Regions from separate parts of the Homo sapiens genome. Here region 2 is linked to region 1. A link means that fine-mapping ties the variant in region 1 to the expression of a gene that starts in the linked region. Tissue or cell type: tibial artery. Region 1 holds a variant in brackets; the other region holds the start of a gene. All regions are shown on one strand. Distances are between the middles of the regions. Region 1 has its middle 31 kb from the start of MANEA-DT. Region 2 holds the start of MANEA-DT (MANEA divergent transcript).

Region 1 (11,692 bases):
GCGTGGGTAAACCCAGAGGACCTAAAGTATTGGGAAACTAACCAAGAGAGGGAATTGAATCCACAGAGGGAAAGGCAGGGGCCCAGTTCTTCAGAGCTTCATGTGAGAATGAAGGCAAGACAAATTTCAAAACAACAGCAAGACCAGTGGCACAGATGACAAAGCTCAGTGTCAGATGGTTGGACTAGAGAAAACTATCTAGGTAAATCTTGCCCTAGAACCTACAGGGCTCTGGATGGGGGTTAGGAAACCCCAGCTGTTAGAGAACAGGGAGCAGAGGATAGACAGACACCTACAAGTGAAAAATACTGAAAGAAAAAACTTCAATTAATGGGTGATACTGACACTTATTATGTCTCTTGAGGAATATTAAAAGAGTAAACCTACAGATCATTAGTCTGCATTGTTCTGCCACAGACAGTTTCTTGCCTCAATGCCCAATGTCTGTACTAACCACAACACTAACCTTTTAATCCTCTAATATTGTGGAAGGAGCTGTTTTCTAAAACGTTTAAGACCACCATATCATCCAGTTTGTCCCATCTGTGGCTCTTTCTGTTCATTTAAGAAATAAAATGATCATTGTTTTATTCCTGCCAATGACAGACATGGAAGGCAACTGGTGCTCTCTGCTGAGGCATGTGGCAGCAGCAGTAGAAGGTACTGTGGTTGAAAGAGCTGCAAAGCCCTGTATTCTGATTGCTCCCATTTCCCTCTCAGCGTATCTGAAGAGCCAGAGAATATTTCCAATCATCGAACTATGAATTATCCTTTTCAAAAGACTACCAGACAGCCAAAAAAGATAAATGTCTTCTGGACATAAGAAATTTTGATAGAGACTCTGCAGGTCCATAAACTCTCTGGCTCAAAATCCATGTGAGGGGAGGTTGTAATAGAGTCAGATGGTCTATAATTTCACCCACAATGTTTATGGAAAAATATCTTGTTTGGATATATATTTTCCTCATCAGGATAAGCAGATATAAAAGATATGTGAGTATATTGGCAAATGCTACATAAAAGAAATATAGCAGCATTTAAGCTGCAAGGACATACCTTGGAAAAGGTTTATTATCAGAAATTTAAAGCACATTTTTTAAAGCATCTGCTTGTGTCGTTAGTACAATTTTTAAAATATGGTCTCTGGTACAAAAAGAAAATACAAGATGAAATATCAACAGATTGACAAAAGAAGGATGTTAATTGAAAGGAGGAAGGTAAAAATTGAAGTGACAGATATAATAACAAGAACTCTCTCCATGAGGAAAAAATTACTGAAAGATGTACATATATACAGCTAAGAGATTAATTCACATAAAAGACTAAAGAATGCTCAGTGTTAGACATTATAAATGGTGAAATCAAATAAATTGAACTAAATATTCTAAATAGGTTTTGAAACAAAATACAAAGGAAATTCATAAGATAGAATATATAACATGTGAAAATGACCATAATAATCTACATCTCAAATTTCTGATTATAAAAACCTCGTTTCACCCAACTGAGAGGTGAATGAGAGCTAAAGGAAGCAAAGTAAAATAATACTAATATTCAGAATTCTATCAGGTGGTATCAAAGCATTATTTGGTTTGCGAAATTGATCATTGGAATTTATTTTTAACTTTTATGTATCTGTAAAATTTTAAAATAAGATATATATTATATGAAGCGTTAGCAATAAAGGTGAGAACATTGTATTCCATAAGGATCCAGATAAGAAAAAGACAGTAAAGAAGCGTTTTTTAAGTTAAAATTGAAAGGGCAAATGAACAAAGTTTTCAGATATAACAACTTAAAAGTTTTGAATTTGAATGGGTTAAACTGTTCTATTAAAGATCAGTCCAATTATATGTGGTTTCCAAGGGACGTACCTAAGGGAATATGACCTAGAGAGGTAAAAAAAAGGAAGAAAAGAAAAATAGAAAAAGAGACTGGCATAGATACATCATCTAAAGGCAAACAAAAGAAAGATCATAACATTAAAATCAGCTGTATCAGATTTTGAGGCAAAGAAGTCATCATAAATTATAAAAGACTTCAGTTTTATGTTTAAAAATGATATATCCACAATGAAGATATTAGAATCATAAACCTTTATATGAAAAATAACATAGCTACAAAATACTTAAAGTAAAAGCTGTGCTATACAATTTTACAAAATGAAGTTAGAAAAGAAAAAAATTTAGCTTTGAAGAAACATCTCCCAGGTTTTGAATACTCATGTAAGAAAAAAGTAAAAAAGTAAAGGCTATATACTATTCTAATTTATAGATTTTTAAAATAAAGAGATCAAGTATATTCCAAATAAACAGAATATACACTTTATTTTAAAAGCCAATGGATCTTTTGTAAAAACTGGTCATCTAATAGGCCAGAAAAATGTTAAATCAGTTACAAAAAGAAAAGCTGAAGTTGTACACGCCATGTTATTAGATCACAATACAAAATAGCCATTAATAGCTAAAGTTAAAAAGTAATTATTTGGAAATAAACAATGCATGACTCATTAACACAGATCAAAGGGGATTACAGATTCTTTACAAAGCAATACAAATGACAATACTTCATTAAATATTTGGTAGAAGCTTTATGCGCATAAACTATCTGACTCAAAATCAGAGAGGTGGAATGTATTAGCAATAGGTAGATAGTGAATAAGACAATGACAGTGCATCTATAATGTTTATAACAAATACCATGTGTGGATATACTTTTTATCATGGAGATTAAACAGATTTTTAAAAAATGAAAATTTGCATTAATATAGTAAATATAGCACCCACTCGACCACCAAATCTCGTGCAGAGAGTTTTTAAATGCTTTCAATACAAAAAGAAGAAATAAAAGACATACGTACAAATAAAACCCCAACAGAAATAAATTAATCATTCAAACAACCTAGTCAGTTTAAAATGTAGGTTTCATTATTATTCAGGTATTGTGACGCCAAAAATCAGGAGACACTGGCCATTGTATAGACAGTTTGTTCCCAAGAGGAAGGGGTATGCCATGCCACACAAGGCCATGCTGGGAAGCACCAGATTCAGTCAGGAGGCAGAAGGATTTGAGGGGTGATGGAGAGCGTGAGCAAGAGCCTTTATTTTGGTTTCTGCAGCAAGGTAAACAGGTTTAGAATTGGCTTGTTTAAATAATCCCAGCAGACTCTGGGGTATAGGAACTGTCCCTAGTTGTCTAGTATTTGACTCTGGAGTGATTAGGGCAGCGCATAGTGGCCCTGAGTGTGACAGCCTCCTAGAGGAGGTTGTGGGGTGTGAAAGCTCTGCATTGTTGGTTTGCATATGAATCTCACAGTCCTGGGCCAGTCATTTACTATGTAGGATATGGCTACATAGGAGCCAGGAGATGGCTAGTCCTGGAAGGGGTAGGCTTTCCAGGATCAGCAAAACCCTGAGATGTCAAAGCATCAGAATTGCAGGAAATGGAAAGGCATGACTTCATACACTGTTGAACCCAGCAGGTGGTTGAAAGCAGGGTTCCCCCTGCGTCAGGGACCCATCTGGCTGTGTTTCTTTATCTCCCTTCCATAATCATGACAGATGCTGTGACACACTGATACATTCCTAGTTAGGAATAAAGAACTTATTACCAGAGCTGCTGTAAGTGCTGTCAGTAGACAAGTCTCAGCTGAAGAGTTTCCTAGTCCGCATCACTCTTCCTTCCTAGGTGGGCCTCCATCCAATGATTAATCTGTGTAGGACAGGGTTTCTCAATTTAACATTTTGAACAGGATAATTTCTTGTGGTGAGGGCCAATCATGTGCATTGTAGGATGTTTAGCAAATTCCCTGCCCCACCCCCCAGACTAGATACTATTAGCACCCACCCCAGTTATGACAAACAAAATGTCTTCAAACACTGCCAAATGTCTCCTAGGGGGCAAAATCACCTATGGCTCATAATTAATGATGTAATTGATTACATATATTACATTAATAATTACATATATTCAATGACATGTAAATACTTTCAGATTTATATTCCAGCCCAGATCTCTTACCTAAGCTTCAGCCTCTGTATAGCTCACTCCCTATTGCCCATGACATTTTATCAAAAGACTTTACATATTTTATGCTTAAGAATATGAATTTTAGAAGTGGCTGCTTAAGTAAACATCTCATTTACTAGCTTTGTAACATTGAGGTTCTACTAAGCTTTTGTTTCCCTCAGTTTTCTTTCCTCATCTATAAAATGGACACAATAATAGGATCTGCCTCATAGGTTTGTTGTGAGAATCAAATTAATGCATGTAAATACTTCAGAACAATTCCTGGCATATTGCTAGTTTTCAATAATGCTAGCTATTACTATTAGTCAAGTGGTGTCTTGCAGGTACGAAATGCAGTGTGTTCAAGTCCATCTAAATTCCTGATCTGCCAACCCTGGTCATTTTTCTGTATTTAGTATTTCACTAAATGACACCACCAATCACTTACTCAAGCCAGGTGCTTAATCAATGTTACTATTGATTTTTCCATCTCCTTCAGCAACTGCCTCAATCACAAAATCATATTGAATCTGTATTCTTAGAACTGGTTGAATTTGTCAATTGTCTTCATCTCAATTGTCACTATTTTCATTAAAACGTGCTTCTTATTACAAGAACTATTGAAGAAATTGAGAACATGGACTCTGGAGTCACAGAGACTTCAGAATTAGGTTTAAAGTCCAATTCTACCAGCATCATGATATTAAGTAAATGACATTTTCTCTCTTTATCCATTACTCTATTTGTTTAAAACAAACAAACAAAAACAAAACAAAACAAAAGTGATAATGCTTGCATTAAAGAAATGCAAAGAATATTATAAGGAGCACTCTTTGTGTTACCCTAACTTGAAATAAAACAAATAACCATTAATAAGAGACTGAATTAAATAAATTGTGACATTTTTATATAATAGAATACTGCATAGTAATGAAAAGCAAATGGCCACTGCACAATCTTAGAGAATGTTGAGCAAAAAAAAAAATCAAAAACACACAAATCAGTAGGTAGTATTTATAAAAAATTTGAAATAGGAAAGACCCAACTGTATTGTTTAGCAATGTGTACTTAGTGATAAAACTGAAACAATATGTAGTTGTGATTATTATAAAAGTTAAAGACAGGCACAAGACTAAGGAATATTGAGGAGTCTTAGTTTGGGAAGTAACAGCCTGGAGGCTTTGGAGGTGATGACAGTGTTCAGTTTCTCAATCTGGGGGATGGATGCATGATGATTTATATATACATACTATATTTTACTGTATTTAATATTTTGTGCACCTTTCTGTTTGTGTTGTGTTTCATAAATTAGAAATGGTTAGACAAAAGGATAGTGGTAAATGAAAACAATATATAAATACAGATATTTTAAAAAGGTGATTAACACATCACCTTTAACCACATATATAGATACATACATACATACATATGTATGTATAAAGCTTTTGTGAATGAAGAGTTACTATTAAGCCTGCATATCAAGACTGCTTCAGAAAGATCTTAGATTCTCATAGGACTGTTTCCATGGAAACAGTAGTTTTAAGACAAATGAGGAATGTTTTGACTGGCTCATTTGTTTTGCGGAACACAACATCTGCCTCAGGTTAGAGGGGCTGTGAGTTTTCATGCACATGGGCTTTGAGCCTGTGGGATAACTATGGTATAAAAAGTTGGTGGGAAATAGAGGCTGTAGCTTCCATGTTTCAAGGTTGCACACACATCTTGGCAATCATTTGTGGCAGCCATGCATACATATGTGTGTGAGGATGTAAAGGAAATCTTTTTTTTTTTTTTTACTACTTTTTTGTACTTGGGTAGCTGCTGAGATGAGGTGATGATGAGATGAAGATGGTACACCTGTTTCATGTATTGCCTATTTCCTTCTATAATGCTAAGTAAACAGTATTATATTAAAGCTTGCCTGTGTCTCCTGACTCAGCTTGCTAGCCGAAGACAAATGCTGTGCTAGACAATGGTGTCAGAAGTAGCCTTGGCTTTCAGGCCCTTGAGTCAAATCATTGTGATGCAGGAAATAGGACAGGATAGGGTTGGGGAGCAGATTTTGATGAACATTTCATGCCTGGATGGCTGAGTTACCTAGATTTATCTCCTAGGAAACCGTTAAAATGGATAGTCAAAGAAAGGCAAGGGGAGGGGGCAGTTAAAGATATAAGAAAAGGGTGAATCAGATACAGCTGTCATTAGGTGGCTGTTAAGACACAGGATGAAAAGATAAGAAATTTATTGTTAAGACACAAGATGAAAAGATAAGAAATTTATTGAATTATCTGAAAAGATTTACTGGCTCATTATCACCAGTTGGGAAAAGGAACATTTGCTCCGTATCTGCCAGCTGCCTTCCTTAATGAATCCCATGAGATATGATCCCTTTAAGCCAATCTGTGTGAGTTTAACCCAGATTAGTCAGTCCTTTCTCTGGGAATAATCTGGCCTAGGGCCACTAGAAGCATTTCACAAACAGTAAAGAACAAATT[G/A]TCCTGACTCGTTTTTACTAGTAAAAGAGGCACAAAGGCTCAAAGGGCTGTTTGGATTCTGGAGGACACATACGTTGGCCCCAGTATACAAAGAGACTAGAAAAAGAAATGGATTTGAATGAGATCCAGAGAAGAAGGCAAGTCAAGCTGTCCCTTTGGTATTATGTTTTATAAACCTGACATTACCAGTAGTTTTAGAGAAGTCCACTACTAAAAAATCCAATGATGCTGTAAGAACAAAAGTTGTGAATAAACTTTGTGCTAAGAAAAGTGCTGAATAAAAAGTGTGCTAAATAAACACCATTGGTAGAAACAGTAGAAACCAATAAAGATTAACTTGAAGGCTAGGATATTTTGTCCTATCCCACAGATCAGTTCAAAGACCATGTGCTTTGGTTAAAGTCGAATATCCTAGGGTTGGTGAACAAAACATTTTGAGACAATTGAATATCGGTACATAAAGTACTATAATACATGTAGGGAGCAAAAACACAATGTTAAGAAGCCAAAGAGGAAGCTAAGGGCTGGGGTGGGAAGGAGATACTGTGAGGGAAGACTCCAAGGCCCTAGTAGAGCACCAGAGAGGAACATGATAAGGAAATAGTGGAAATAGATAAGAATAGTGCTGCTATTCTCTGCTTGAATGAATAACTGGAAAGGTTATGAAGCAAAAGCAGAAGGTCTTGCCCTTCTTAGTGGTCTATAGCTGAATGCTAGGGATTTGCCCTTTGCCAGGTTTTTATCAGATCTGTTAAGTGGGAGGCTTTACAATTGCCCTTTTCTGTAGTAAATACTAAACTGCATCATTTTCCAGGAAAGTAGCAGGAAATCTCAGTCATGATTAAAGAGGTCGTGGAAACAGTTGTGCTCATCCCCATCAATTCTCTTCACGTTAGTCCTGTCTGTCCTGTGAGAAAATGCAGAATTAAGTGAAACAATTTTCCCCAAAGTCTCTGTTATGCCAGACATGATTAAAAACTACCAGGAGGTTCGGCAGGGAATGTGCTTTGATAATAGAATCTGGAAAAAATGCCAAGCATCATTTTTATCTGCATGAGAGATATTTCATTACATATACTTTACTATCTTCCTCTAAGGTTATGCACATTCTCCAGGATTTAGCTACTGCCCTATAAGACAAGATTTGAGTCTCTTCATTTCTGAAAGCCCATTGATTCATGAAGCTGATGATACGATGATACCTCCCCTCTCAGAAAGTAAGCTGAGAATGGAGGCAAGGAGGATTTACAAACAATAGCTGCAATAGGACTAGATAAGGATGTCTAAAAAATCTGATTAAGATTCAGGACCCAGATTGGTCAGTCTTTTCTCTAGGAATACTCTGGCCACTAGAGGCACTTCACACACAGTAAAGAACAAATTGTCCTGACCCATTTTTACTAGCAAGAGAGGCACAAACTCTCAAAGAGTTGTTTGGATTCTAGGACACATATGCCATATTTGGAAATCCTGTTGGCCCCGATATACAAAGTGACTAGAAAAAGCAATGGATTTGAATGATATCCAGAGCAGAGGGTAGGCCAAGCTGTCTTTTTGGGATTTTATAATCCTGATACAACCAGCAGTTTTAGAGAAGTCCACTACTAAAATACACATAGACTGGAGTCCCTAGCCAAAGCCTTAGAATGCTACTTATAGGTGGTTGCAGGAGTTCTGGACTAAAAAAAATTCATGATATTGTGTCTGAGAACAGCCTATTTGAGATACAGGCATTAGCATGCTTTTTGGCTCTAGTAAGAAACAGCCCTCATACCCAAAGAGCATCAGATTACATTGCATTACCTATGGTGACTTGAGGCTTGAGTTATCTACAGTCTCATGGGTGATATAAAAAGAGATTCCAATAGAAAGGGAGTTGTACAACAAGTTCCCTGGTAAAATATGAATGATATATGATACAGTTTGGCTGTATCCCCACACAAATCCCATCTTGAATTGTGGCTCCCATAACTTCCACATACTTTCTCATAATTTCTACATGTCGTGGGAGGGACCCAGTGGGAGATAACTGAATCATGATAGCAGTTTCCCTATGCTATTCTCATGATAGTAAGTTCTTATAGATCTGGTGGTTTTATAAGGGACTTCCCTCTTCACTTGGCTCTCATTCTTCTCCTTCCTGCCACCATGATTTTAAGTTTCCTGATGCCTTGTCAGCCATGCTGAAAAATTAAACCTCTTTTCTTTATAAATTATCCAGTCTTGGGTGTGTCTTTATTAGCAGTGTGAGAACGGACTGATAAAATATATTTGGGAACATGCTAAAAAAGATAGACTCTGAGGAAATGCACTCTATCCATGAGCAGGTAACATCTCTGCCTCTACAGTGGCACTCTGGAGGAGCTACCCACTCTTATTGCCAAAGGTTCTGAACCCTGCTGAGACAAAATATCTGACTTATTTGCTAATGAGAGTCCTTGCACTGAATGATGGGACTCTATATGGAAGGCTACAGCTAACCTCCAATGTACTGTAAAAATCTGAGCTGAAGACACAATGATAAGCATACACAGTGGCCTGAATAGAGGTCAGTATATGTTATATGTTAATGGTTCAGGAAGAACTTGGTTCTTGGCCTCAGGCTTGTGTCTAAATATTAAAGCCTCCTGGGCTTTCCCTAGGACTGTGTTGCAGTGTCAGACAGGCAAATGCTTCCTTGATACATAGATACACAAGATTATCTTCATGTGAAGAGATGCAATTGTGGAAGTCTTTATGGAAACTCCTGGGGAGAAGCACATTTCTAGATGCCTACAAAGAACAGCCAGTAGTGTCTCAGAGGAGCGCTAGAAAGCCAAAGTAGATGCCCTGGTCTCCCAAAGGAGAAAATCAGTTGAGTGTATGAGATGAGCTGTCACAGTGGTGCTCAAGCCATGCCACGACAATTGGAAGCAATGGCATAGACCAGTGCTACCCAGAAAAGCCATTACTATTGTGACAGGCTGTCCTGAATGCGATCAAGAAGAAAAAAAAGTCCAAAAATGGCACTGGAGAGAATTCCCTGAGGTCAATGGCAAGCACATCACTGGCAGATGGATTATACTGAACCCAGTTCATTACTCCTGGAGTATTCCAATGAGTCTTTCTGGGGATAGATGAGTGTTTTGAGTCCCCCCACTATATTTCATAGGGAATGAATTTCACCATGGCCAAGTTTCCAAAATGAGACAAAAAGAACCATATGTAATGGACATATACTCCTACCAGCCACATAGGAGTGGCTTAATTAAAAATTGGAATAGTCAACTAAAACATTCATTTTGAAAGACAGAGGATGCTAAGGAAGTGAAGGATAAGAAGGGCTGGCTGGGAAGCTTATAAGGGGGTATGTGCTTCACCTAAACATGGGAGACATTGAGGGCGGAACAGCCTTAAGAAAGCTTTTTGTGTACCAGGAATAAAGGGTTGGGAAATGATACTGTGACATAAATCTTCGTCTTTCATACCTTACAAACCTTTCCTTTTCTGTTATCAGATCAAGTGCATTAGACAAACATTGCATTTGCCCTTCTTCCAACGAAAGGGAGCATACTACTTAAGATACTTTATTCCTTTGCACTTGGGTATATGTTTTCCTAAGGACATGTAGACAGTTATTTTGCCCAGTGTGACCAAGGTAGGACTGACCCTAAGTGCTGCTTTATTGCCTAGTGGTAGAGGAGGACCTGTTATCTTTTACCTTTGCAAACCTATCATCTATTTATAAGAGTGGGAAAAGGATTTGGTGAGGCTTTATTTTTATCTGGAGGGAAGAAAAGTCATTTGGGACATTATCCTGTACAAAACCTATGGGAGAGGGCCTGTATGCTCATCCAGGAAGTGCTCTCTGCTACACTTTATTTCTATTGTGTTTAAAGGAAAATGCCTGAGTGCTTTAGAAGTCCAAGCCGGACAGATGCAATATTAAAATGGTAAGGACCACCTGAACTATAGCAGGATGTCACTGGAACAAGTGATCCTGTTATCGTTCCCTTACAATATATACACCATGAATTTAAAAAGAGCCAGCATTTCCTGTGATGCAGTTAGTGGCCATCAAAAGACCAACACTGTGTCCTCTCTATAGGGTGAATTGGTTGTGCTCTACTTTTATATGTGGGAACCAGTGTCAATAAAATCCTGCTTCTTCATAGCAGAGGTATGATTAGGCCCCCAGGACAGAAAGAATTCTGGATTTACTGAATATTCTAGTGACTATTCCTGTCATTGAAAATGTATGGCATATGGGCAAGAGATAGTTCTGTTGGGAAGGATGAGGAAATTATACTGTAATAAAAATAAGTGTTTGGTGTGCTATGTATTACTTTAATATCTGCTGCTATCTGCTGTAATGTTAACAAGTAGTTTGTGTGCTAAGCATTACTTTAATCTCTCATCTACTGCTATTTGGTATAATAAAGTATTTTATGGCCTCATATATGGAAATTAAAGGAAATAAAATGTATAATGATCATGACCCCTCAGGATCAAAAGATATTTTGAGAAACTGATTTGAGATCCCCACTTGATGATAACCCCATAGAAACTAATTGTCCTTAGAGAAACTAAACACACGTCTAAGTGTCCCTAAAAACTTTTAAAAGATATATGTGATATTGAGTGAGAGGGAGACTGTAATTCACTAATAAGGCATCAAAAGACTTGTCTAGTATGTCGGTTAAGATGAACATGTTTTGGGAAGAAGATAACTATACTAACAGTACAAACTTGGTGGTCACAAGTGTAGTAGTTTGTTTTTTCCTGTGTACAAAATATTAGAGATGTGCCTATCAGAAAAAATACCAAGGAACATTTAAGGAGTATGTTTTGTGAAACATTGACTTGAGGTCATGGAGATGAAACTGTAAGTAAGAATTTAACATTAGCCTGGTCTGATATGGACTTCTCGGAGAGTGACCTCAGTTTCCCATAGCACTCTTGTTTTGGGAGGAATGAAGCAACAAAAATGAGAAATGGTATTTCTGTATGTTGAATGAAGTCAGCTCTGGGTTAGGAGAGCTACAAGTGGGCATGCATGTTTGGGCCTATAGACTTGAACAGCACAAAGGATTACTGGAAAGCACAGCCTGTTGCTTTTACCTGTCAAGGTGATCTACACACATCTTGACTCTCATCCATGGAAACTAAATATCCATGTAGTGAGGCAGACAACCTGTGTACTTGGAAGT
Region 2 (11,692 bases), 31 kb before region 1:
GTATAATGGTAAGCAAATATGGTAAAATATTACCATATGGTGAATATGCAGGAAAAGTAAACAGAAATTGTTTGTGCTATTTATCCCAGCAGTAAATAGAAGAATGTGAGCTGTTAACATACCTGCTTATTTCTGGAAAGGGCTAAGTCACAAAGTCTTTCAAACCCTGCACTACATGACTCTGTGAAGTGAAATTTCTACATGTGAGCTGTGGCAGTCCTGTTGCACTAACAGGTATAAAAGGATGGGCTGGGCGTGGTGGCTCACGCCTGTAATCCCAGCACTTTGGGAGGCTGAGGCAGGCAGATCACGAGGTCAGGAGATCAAGACCATCCTGCCTAACACGGTGAAACTCCATCTCTACTAAAAATACAAAAAATTAGCCAGGCATGGTGGTGGGCACCTGTAGTCCCAGCTACTCGGGAGGCTGAGGCAGGAGAATGGTGTGAACCTGGGAGGCAGAGCTTGTAGTGAGCAGAGATCGCGCCACTGCACTCCAGCCTCGGCGACAGAGCAAGACTCCGTCTCAAAAAAAAAAAAAAAAAAAAAAAAAAAAGATGATACAACCATTTTGGCATGCCACTGTAATTTGTTGTCCTGAAATTTTCAAATCATTGACATCACAACAAACATTTCCCTTTGATTGAAGAAAGGGAAAATTTTGATGAGACATGAAGCAAAAATAATATTTTGGATGTAATATATCAACTACTATGATATATAATATCATATCTGTATTAAAGATACACATAGAAGGAAATATACTTAAACATGTAAAATAGTTATGTCTGGATGAGACAACAGTGATATTTTCTTACTCTGTTTTCTAAAAGTAGAACATAATACTTCAGAAGGAAAACATTTGGATAGGTATTCTATAAGGAAAAAAACAATGGTAATGAATGTTGGAAGAGTTACAGAGAAAGGAGAAATAACTAACAGATTTATAAATTAGTAAGGCATTCATTTTTGAAACGTTGACTTCAGCTGAATGGCGAGATTCATGAAAGATCAAGATATATAATAAATCTTAAGATGTAAATTCAAATCAGTCACACTTAGTTGTGTGATCCTGGGTAAATCACTTAGCCTTTTCTTAAAAAAGAGGGTATCTGTTTTGCCTACTGATAAAACTATTCTGTGAATCATGCAAGACAATTTGAAACAGTAATGTTTTAATCAAACAGTAAATACTAATGAATTTATAAATAAATGAAAAGTGAAGAAATATTGGAAACTCTAAAAAATTTCTTAGGTTCATTTTCTGGATACACTCATGAATACAAAGCACAAAATGTCCATTTATGGAAGCTGTTTTTTTTTCTCTCTCTCTTGCCTATGAATGTAATTTCTTAAGCTGATCCTCTGTCTTCTCATTTTACATTACTTCATTCATTCAATTAAAATGTGTGTTTATCACATCATTATAGATGACACACAAGCTCAATTTTAAGAGATGATCTGCTGGCTCTGGCTCAACCTCCATGTCTCAATTAAGTCATCTCAACCTAAATAAACACAGATGGGCATTGAGATTTAAAATATGAGCTCTGTAGTTCAAATGCTTGAGCTCAAATTCCAGCTGTGCCATTTTTTAGTTATCTGACCTACAAAACTGACCTGATCTTTCTGAGTTCCTTTCCTCACCCATAGAATGAGTTATTACTTCACTCATAGGATTTTTGTGAGGATGAAATTAGTTAATATTGTAAAACTCTCAAAATCATGTGGCTTAGTATAAGACTAAATAAATGAGCAATTGTTTATGATGATGATTAAAGATGGGTGTCCGACAAGCAATTAAAATATAACACATTTTATTCTAAATGCCTATTCTCTATATGACCAACTATTGAAATACCAGTCACCTTCAAGTCAAAGTTGAAATGCTGCCTCTTCTTGATACCTCTCCTAATTCCACAGTGAAAAGTACTTATTCCTCATATATTTTATTGTTAACAGTATTTACTTTTTAAATTGTCATTTCTTTTTTTTTTTTTTTTTTGAGACGGCGTCTCACTCTGTTGCCCAGGCTGGAGTGCAGTGGCACTATCTCCGCTCACTGCAAGCTCCGCCTCCAGGGTTCATGCCATTCTCCTGCTTCAGCCTCCCGAGTAGCTGGGACTACAGGTGCCTGCCACCACGCCTGGCTAATTTTTTGTATTTTTAGTAGAGATGGGGTTTCACCGTGTTAGCCAGGATGGTCTCGATCTCCTGACCTCGTGATCCACCCGCCTCTGCCTCCCAAAGTGCTGGGATTACAGGTGTGAGCCACCGTGCCCGGCCAAATTGTCATTCCTTATGTATTATATCATGCTGTGCATTTATCTTTATATCACCTACTAGATTGCTCCTTAAGTTTCAGAAATGGAGTCTTTATCTTCACATTCTAGTAGAGCATAACATATCTTTCACATAGTGTTCATTAAGTGTTCAGCTTTAAAAAAGTTAATTTCTGGCTCTTTGCTGTTTCATTGGTATTCAGGCAGTGTGTGTGTATATATATATATGTATATCTGTGTGTGTGTGTATATATAGACTACTGACCGTATACACACTTGATAAGTTTACGGTGTATACTGAACATATTATAAAGAATCGTAAAGATCCAATAATTTTAAAAATCCAATTTAATAAAAAAAATCATCTTCAACGCTGTAAAACCACAATGACCCTTGAGATGCCTAAAATGTCTGATCTTGCAGGAAAGGGGTGGAGGAACTAATTTAGCTTCAATAAAAGAAAAGTATTATAAGTCACCATAGAGAAAATATTACAAGTTTATTGCAGATATATCTTTCCAAGGCAGGGACCTACTCAAAGTATTGGCTACTGAAAATCTGTTTTCTCCTCAAAAGACTGTTTACATTACTCATACACAATAGGTTCTTTTGAACCTGTAGCTTCTATTTTTTGAGTTTTGTGCTTTTAATCCTTTGAAATGCTGACTTGAAGCTTAGTGATGTCTAATAAAAAATTATTGGACATATCCAGCTAGCTAAGAGACCCCAAGAGATTCAGAAGCAGGGTGGTATGAATTAGTACTTCAAAAATTATTTGCTTTTATCATGTAACTCACAAAAGCCAAAAAGACTTCCCTTTCAATTAACTAAATTAAATCACACAGACTTCTGGTGCTTTTTTTAAAAAATATATTGTTTTCTTCTAATTTTATTTTGTATGAAGCCACCGGAGATAAATATAACTCAATACTAGAAGACACATCTGGAACTTTCAAAATCAGTTTCAAAATCAATCCTTGCCCAGGTCAGTTTTATTGTAAACACTTGTACCCTCTGGTTAACAGAAATTCAGTGAGGTTTAGTTTCTGTTTTTTGTTTTGTTTTGTTTTGTTTTTGAGATGGAGTCTCACTCTGTTGCCATGCTGAAGTGCAGTGGCGCCATCTTGGCTCACTACAACCTCCACCTCCCGGGTTCAAGCGATTCTCCTGCCTCAGCCTCCAGAGTAGCTGGGACTACAGGCGCACGCTACGACGCCCAGCTAATTTTTGTATTTTTAGTAGAGACAGGGTTTCACCATGTTGGTTGGCCAGGATGGTCTCGATCTCTTGACCTCATGATCCACCCACTTCGGCCTCCCAAAGTGCTGGGATTACAGGCGTGAGGCACCGCGCCAGGCCGCAGAATTTTTTTTAACCTCATTTTACAAATGATGAAGCTGAGCAGTTGGTAACTTTTTCAAAAATCTCTGGGCCAGCAAATGGCCAAGAAACCAATCTAAGGTTAATCACCTAGCAAGGAGCAGATCGAGTCTGGCTCAAGAACTCAAGTTCTTGTCCATGCTATTCTGCCTTCCTTTAAGGTATTAGACAAATCAAATTTAGAGGATACACCAGTTATTTTTGTGACACAAGATGAAAGCTGCTGCTATATGGTTATGTTTTCAATTAAGGATTATGTACCTAATAAACAATGATTAACTGTTACCTACTCCATAAACTGTGCCCAAACTTCATCTAAAGACAGCTTATTCTATTTTATGATCATACATTCACTATTCGTCACACGAATAACAGCAACAGCTCTGGAAATGGTGTTTTCATTGTTGTGATTTTTTGTTTTGGGGGGTGTTTTTCTGCATTGAGCCTGAAAATCCACAAATTCACAGCACTCATGTTTTTTTCAGGTGTGATACACCTGAAATAGATGTATTGTCATGAAAGTGATTTGCAAACAACGTGATACAGTATCACCAATATCTAGGTTTTACTTTATATTTTTGTTTCAAACTACTGCCTCAATACTTTAACGTGAACAGCCTATTCCAGTCCCATTTTTCTTATTTTCAAGTTCTTAATCAACATTATCCCCCCCTTGTTGTTGTTTTATAGCACTTCCACATTTTCTCCTAACACTTATCCGTAGGGTCTTACAACAACAAAACCAAACAGTTATACCTGCCTGTACTTCAAGTTGCTTCTTTGGAAAAAGGAACAACAAAAACACTAATCCAGCACTGTTGCATCCCGACTTAGCAAAGGCTAAGAGTCTAAGATGACAGTGCCAAACACGTTAACAGGTGAACTGAAAAACCATCTCTAGCGGCCTCGCCATCGGGCGGTCTCCTCCCGATGCCCAGAGGCGACAGCTACCTTTCCGTTGCACCCAGAGCCCAGCAGGCCTCGATCCTTCTACTCTCCCGGTCGGCTCAAGGCCCAGAGGCAGTCTGGGGGCACAAGGAGAAGGTGCTGAAAAAGGCTTCCATCCGACCCGAAATTTCCACCTTGTCGGGGAGACAAGGAAAATCCGAGGCGACAGGAGGTACCGTTTCAAAGAGGAGGCGGCGACGAGGCCAGTGAGGTGGGGATAAAGCAGTGTAAAAGGCAGTAAAACTAACGCAGACTAAAACAGGCCTAAGAGTGACAGCCTAGGTTAATCGAGGGGGCTACAGGCTCGCCGCTGGGCGCCACCAGCGCCTGCCAGAGGGGCGCCGGGTCAAAGGGCGCCCGGAGGAAAGCGGCCACCAGATTGGCTGGCGGGCGAGCGCGCAGGCGCCCGCGGTGGACCTCGTGCCTGCCGCCGCTGCTGGCGCCGCCGCCTCCAAGAGGTCTGACTCCTGCAGCTACTCACCAGGGTCGGGTAATTCACTTCTTGCAAGGACTCGGCCAGAGGAGAGGTTAAGACCGCGAACATAGAGCTGACTGCCGCCGCGCCCCGAGCCCAGACAGCCCCTCCTCCCCGAAGGCGCGCGCACAGCGTTCCGGGCGCTTTCAGGGGCGGGACGGGTGGGGGCGGGGTCACGGAGCGGGCGGGGCTCGGGGTCTTCCGGAGCCTCCGGTCGCGGGTCTAAGAGGACTAGGGCGGGAGCGGCGCGGAAGAAAGAGAGGACTGCGTTTTGGGGCGTTCTGTCAGAGGGGAAGGACGTGTGGATTGGAGTCAGACTGCACTCCCGCCCTATTTCTGCAAGTAGAACTCACTGCCTTTAGAAACGGTCTTCTGAGGCTCTGTTGGGAGGCTCTAACTGTATTACAGAGGACACATTTTTGTTTGTTTTTATGTGAAACATTCAGAAGTTGCTTGCATCAAGTGCTTTACAAGTACACTGGTTTTCAAACTTTTAAAGTTGAGGAACTGTTTTGATTTTTGTAAAAATAGAACTTTACTTGGAAGCCCAAGGTAGGCAGATGGAGATGGCGTTTTTAATTTGCGAATGTATTCTATAAAATCACATCTGTACTGAAGTACTAGAAATAATTGAGGATAAGTCAGATGTGAAGAGCAAGAACTTTTGAAATAGGATTACAACTGAAGGTTTCCATCTTACATTAGCTTCAGAAAACAAGAAAATGCTATCTTTTGTTTGGTTACATAGTAACAGGAAGTCCTTATTCAAGCTAGAACTTGCTGATGTGAACAGTTTCATAAGGGCTCTCCTTAAAAAGATTTTGTACACCAATTTTAATTGGGAAATATACATATGAGTATATCTCATGTGCATATCTTAAAGAAGAATGAAAAATGCCCAGGTACCCACTACAGAGCTTAAGAAAAAAAAAATGCCAGTATTTTTGGAGTCTTCTAGAAAGAAGACTCTCTAAAAACATCTCCTTCCTTCCGTTCACCATTATGCTGAATTTTATATTACTCATTCCGTTGTATTTCTGAAAATAGTTACATATGTACGATTCCCTAAAAATACTATTTTCCTAGTTTTATATTTCATATGTGAATCATTCTTCATTTTTCCCCTTTTTTCACTAATTTAGGTTTTGAGAGGTTTTGAGATTCGTCTGTATACAAGTCCATTTCCCATAAACTAGACTGGCACATCGTTACCCTTATGCTATTGTTAGACTTTTTAAGTTTTTGCTGATAAGAGCATCTGATTGCTCTTTTAATTTGCATTTTCCCTTTTGCTAAAGCCTGTTCTTAATTTTATCTCATTTTTTATTAAATTGCTTGCTTTTGAAAATTATTTTGTAGATAATATTTATTTTTTCTAGTTTAATTCTCTCTTGTAAGTTACATGTGTTGCAAATGTCTTCTCTTAGTTTATGGACTGTCTTTCCAGTTTTTATGATGTTTCTTGATTGCCAAAAGCTTTATGCTTCAGTATACAGCTTTTTGAATTTAATAATATTTTACATTTTAATTTTGTGCTTTTTGCTTTCTTGCTTACAAGATTCTTCCCAACATAACATCAGAAACTATTCTTTCTTCTACAAGTTTAAAAGTTTAATTGTAGCAACTTTAAACACAGAAAGGACAAATAATAATATAATGAACACCCATGCACTCAACTCTATGTATTAAAACATTTTGCAAACCCCTCCTCCTAATGATTCTTGTCTAAAATTGCCTTAACTATACTTGGCTCTTTACTCTTTCATTGAAATTTTAGGATGAGCCAGCCAAGATCCATTTAAAAAATTGGATTTCAATTGGGCATTTTATTCAACTTGAGAATTGCATTTAGAGATTTAGTGAAATGTCTTCTTATCTATGAACATGGTATATTTATTTTATTCAGGTACTTTATGTGCTACTATGCTTTGTAATTTATTGAGTATCTTTCATTATATTGCCTCCTAGTTTTATTACTAAAATTAGAGATCTCTCTCTTTAAACTCTATTTTCTAATTGTTTAGTAACATTGTATTAAAAGAGCATCAATTTCAATATATTGGTACTATCTCCAGAAGCTTCGCTGAATTTTTTTGATTGCTTGCTTTATTTCCCTGTTACATCTTTGGATGACCTATATAGGTAATCATATCATTTGTAAATAAGAATAATGGTTTCCTTCTTTCTCTCTTTTCAAACCACTTATTATTCAGTTTTTTCTTTTATTTATTAACAGAGCATCCAGTGCAATGTTTAATGGAAGTAATAATGGCATTCTTGTCCCATTCCTCACTTTACTGCAATACTGCTAACATTTTATAATGATAACAATGTTTGCTGTGGGTTTTTGGTAAATACTTTATCAAGATTATTAAGTGTTCTGTTTCCAGTTCATAATGTATTGTTGTTTGCTTTTTTTTAACCATGAGTGACAGTTTAATTGATTAAATGCTTTTTCTGCACCTATTGAGATAATCATTGTTTCCTATTCTAATATATTTATGGGAATGATTAATACATTTTCTGATGTCAAATGAGAGGGAGAGGATTTTATTTTATAAATATGTTAATGCATGCTCACTTGCTTAAAAACTGGGTACTTTATGACTGCCAGTGTAAATAAATTAGGCAAGTAGATTCTCATTGCATCACACTCTATTCATTGCACAATGGTGTTTATAAACTGGATTAGAATTGCTGCTAGTGCCTCATCTTGTAACTCTGACTGCTCTACCTATCCCCTGCTATTGTCAGGGAATGTTGAGATGGCAATGATAGAAATAATGTTGTTAATATTCTTTTTTTCTTTCACATCACTTTTTTTCACAGTGTTTTTATGTAGAATTTTTTTTTTTTACTTGACATCACTGGAAAGTCAGCAATGTTTTGTTGTAATTATCACATATAGAATGTTATTACATTCTGAATCTTGATTTTGTTTTCAAATATGGGATGGCCATAATAACTGCCACATCCAATTTTTTTATCTCTCATATATACATATAGATTTAATTAGTTCAATAATTTCCTGAATGTAAACAATGTAGAATTTAGTAAATTAATAAGCACTGATGGGAAAGGTCTCCAAGATAAATGAGCAAGTGATTAGTATGTTAATACTTACAAGAGAAATTCACATTATATTAATATAAATTTTAAATATATATGTGCATGTATGATATATAAAAATATCTGAAAGGATATATGCATTGTTACCTATAGGGATGTAACAGAAGGGGAATGAAGGAGAATTTTCTTTTTTACTCTCTGTAGTGCTGTTTTCTTTTTTAATGTGAGCCCATATTTATGTATTTTTTAATTAAAAATACAGCACCAGAAGAATATGCCATTTATCTAATAGATGGTTTCTTGGAAAGAAAAAGAGCTGCATATAAATTCATTTGTGTAGTAAATAGACATTTTAAATGTGTTGCATCAGGGGTAATCAGTCACTGAGAGTCCAAAGACAAAAATGATCCAAAGAAGGAAGAATGGAGAAAAAAAAAATCCCCCATTTTTTTTTCTTTTTTGTCAAATTCTTGTATGGAAAGATTCTAACACAATAAACTAATAGTAGCCTTTGGTTTATCCTAATTAGCATTTATTAAAATCATAGTCCCCACCCCACAAGATCCTTCAGGTTAATCCTATCTTGCTACTAGAAAAGCGGCAGCCATTTATCTTATCTTTTGGCATCAGCATTGAAGAGTCTTCTTTGTATTTCCCAGACCTAAGCAGTTACACCTTCAACCATCTTTTTCTTGCCTCTATTTCAATGGGCCCTATTGTTTGTCTCCTGATTATTTCATGTCTATTTTTCCCTGTCCTAGAAGTTTCATTAGTATTTCCTAGCCATATGCCATTTATACCTTTGCTCATTACTCCTGTCACTGAAGATGAGAAATCAATTTCTGTCCATATCCTCTCCACTTACATTAATCAGAGATATATTTTGTAAGCAATAGAAATTGAATCTGGCAAACCTGAAAACAAATAGACTATGTAAAAAGTTACAGAATTTAGCATGAAGATGAAGGCTAGTACATTAGGTAATGGCAATGGATAGGAAACAAGAGGGGCTAGGAAATTGGGAACACAGCCTCATATAACAGTACAGATTAGGGCACTGCTGCTTTCAGGGCTGCACTGATCTCAAAGCTGCTGACACCACTATGAGTGACTTCTCAACTCTGTGTTGTCTACCTCGTTGCTTCAAGATTCAAATTTTGGATTGAGATCATTTGATTAGCTTACTCTAGGCTGTATGTCTTTTCCTCCTTAGCCTCCTTGAAGTAGAGCCCAGAACTTTTGGCTTTAATGGGAAATTGGGCACAAAACACAGAATACATTATTCTTCCAAAACCTGAAGGATTTTTAGATTCTAAGTAGTAACAAAATAAAATAAACTAAATCCCCAAACAATAGTCCAATTATCCATCACAGTATGCTTCACTGTCCATATAAAGTCTACTTTCTCCCTTACTATTTTATACTTACTGTTTTATTCTTTTAATCCCTATACATTTATAGGGAGTAATATGAAACAGCAATAATTTCTTAATTAACTAAATTGTTCTGTTCTTTTTATCATATCTGGTATCTGTGAAGGTGTAACTAAGGTATTCCTTGACACAGTTTGGGATGCAAAGAATGTAACTCCAATAGTGCCATGAGTAAAACACTAAAGTTTCCACCAATTTATAGCAGTAGATAATTCAGAGAGCCAAACTCATTGTTTCCCCTAATGCTCTGATCCTTTCACTGTACCTACCAGCATCCTGACAGCAAGGAATCCATTCTAACTCTATCCCACATAAATTCACGAACTATTATCAGACCAAGGAAAAAACTTGCCTTGGTAGGTCATGATTAAAATTCACTGGCCTCGTAGTGGTCACAGGTTTTAGGGTGACTTCTTGATGCATTAGATAAGGCTCTTCTAAGAATTGATGTACATAACCCAGAATTAAACTCAGTGTAGGTAACTTCTAACTAAACAGGCCAAGCCCCTTTGGTGAAAGTTTTTCTCATTCTCTGATCCAAGTACTTGCCCAGGTGATGGCCCTCCTGAGTGACAGAGATGGGAGAGCGTTCTGCCTTCCCAAATAAAGAAGGCAGAAAGTTCACCTCTGGTTGAATGGTGCTGTTAAATGCTAATGCATTGATTGACTATATATGGAACATTTCTCCTTAAGGAAACCCTATCCTGAAGGAAACCCTATTCTGCAAACAGGCATGGTGGCAGCTAAGGGAGATGCATGTCTTTAGTGGAAACCAGAGCCAGCAGGGAGATGTAGCACTTCCTGAGTTCGGAAATGACTCCACCAGTTGATATAGGGCCTCTCAGTGTGTTGAAGGAAGGAAGTCCTATGTTTTATGATTGAGCATTAGTGTCATACTACAATCAGCCACTCCCCAAATGTTGCATCACTGAAACTCCAGGTTTCACAGAGAATTTCCTAAGGTATTAGGTTTGAGTTTCTTCCTTCGTGGGATGCTATGGATTCTTTAACCAAACCAACCTAATCTTTCTCCTGCCATAGTACCACCTTCTCCTGCCATGCAAAAAGAAGCAGTTTGCAAAAGTCAGTAAAAGAAAAAAAAAATGCCTTGTTATTTCTCAAAATGATGGGCTCACTTGTCTTCTATTTATATAAGAGAGACCACAGTAATTATTCTCAACAGTATCAGCTACAAGGTGATTTTCTGTGCCTGCGTATTCTAAGAAGTAGCTGGCAATTTCTCTTGTTAAAAGAGAAAAAGAAAAAAACATGCACTTACTCGCTGATAAACATTTTTCTGTTAGAGAACCCAATTAAATAGCAGGCCTGTGTTGTGTACGTCTTTTATACACCCTGTAATGCCAGGTTCCATGAAGGCAGTTCCAGAGATAGTCTAATTCAGAGCTGGGGCTCCAACTCCCAACACATAGTAGGTGCTTGTAGTAGGATGATAATAATTCCCAAAGATACAGAGGTCCTAATCCTCTGAACCAGTGAGTAATAATTCAAATGGCAAAAGGGACTTTGCAGGTGTGAGGAAGGATCTTGAGATGAGAGTTGTCTTGATGGACCCTAAATATAGTCACACATGTCTTTATAACAGGGAGGCAAAGGGAGATTTGACAAAGAAGGCGGCAATGGGACTACTGAAACAAAATGCTAGGCTGCTGGCTTTGAAGATCAGACTAGGGACCAAAAGTAAAGGAACGCAAGCATTTCATTCAAGCTCTAAAAGCCAGAAAAGGCAAGAAAAACCTTCAGAAGGGAGAGTGACCATAATAATACCTCAATTTCAGCCCAGTGAAACTGACTTCAGACTTCTGACCTCCTGAACTGCAGGAGAATAAATGTATGCTTTTTAAGCTACCAAGTTTCTGGTAATTTGTTCTAGCAGCCACAGGAAACTAATACAGTTTTCAACAAATATGTGTTGAATAAATAAATCAATGAACAGTAGGGATTCAATAAATATTACATTAATTATAAGATGCCCAGATTGTTTCTTTGAATGTGAGAGAAACATCATTCTTTAAATGTATCTGCAAAGTAAAAGCTAATTGCATTAATATAAACTGAGTTGTTATTTACCAATTTTTATTCTGGCT

Evidence for each region. PIP is the estimated chance that this variant, and not a neighbour inherited with it, causes the effect.
Region 2: it holds the start of MANEA-DT, and the variant in region 1 is fine-mapped to the expression of MANEA-DT in tibial artery (GTEx, PIP above 0.99). The same link has a PIP of 0.9 or more in atrial appendage and subcutaneous fat.

Annotation. Positions count from the first base shown.
Region 1 is chr6:95,540,217-95,551,908 of GRCh38, reverse strand. No RefSeq gene overlaps it. Among named protein-coding and RNA genes, the nearest start is that of MANEA-DT, 31 kb to the left of the region's middle. RefSeq lists an enhancer at 2,273-2,889 and a silencer at 7,029-7,229. The variant G/A (reference allele first, on the strand shown) is at 6,504.
Region 2 is chr6:95,571,038-95,582,729 of GRCh38, reverse strand. MANEA-DT (MANEA divergent transcript) reads left to right here and starts at 5,279. Exons shown (of 3, transcript NR_104136.1): 1 at 5,279-5,637. MANEA (mannosidase endo-alpha) reads right to left here and starts at 5,195. Exons shown (of 5, transcript NM_024641.4): 1 at 5,092-5,195. RefSeq lists enhancers at 4,596-4,695, 4,159-5,099 and silencers at 4,896-4,955, 5,236-5,325, 5,376-5,455.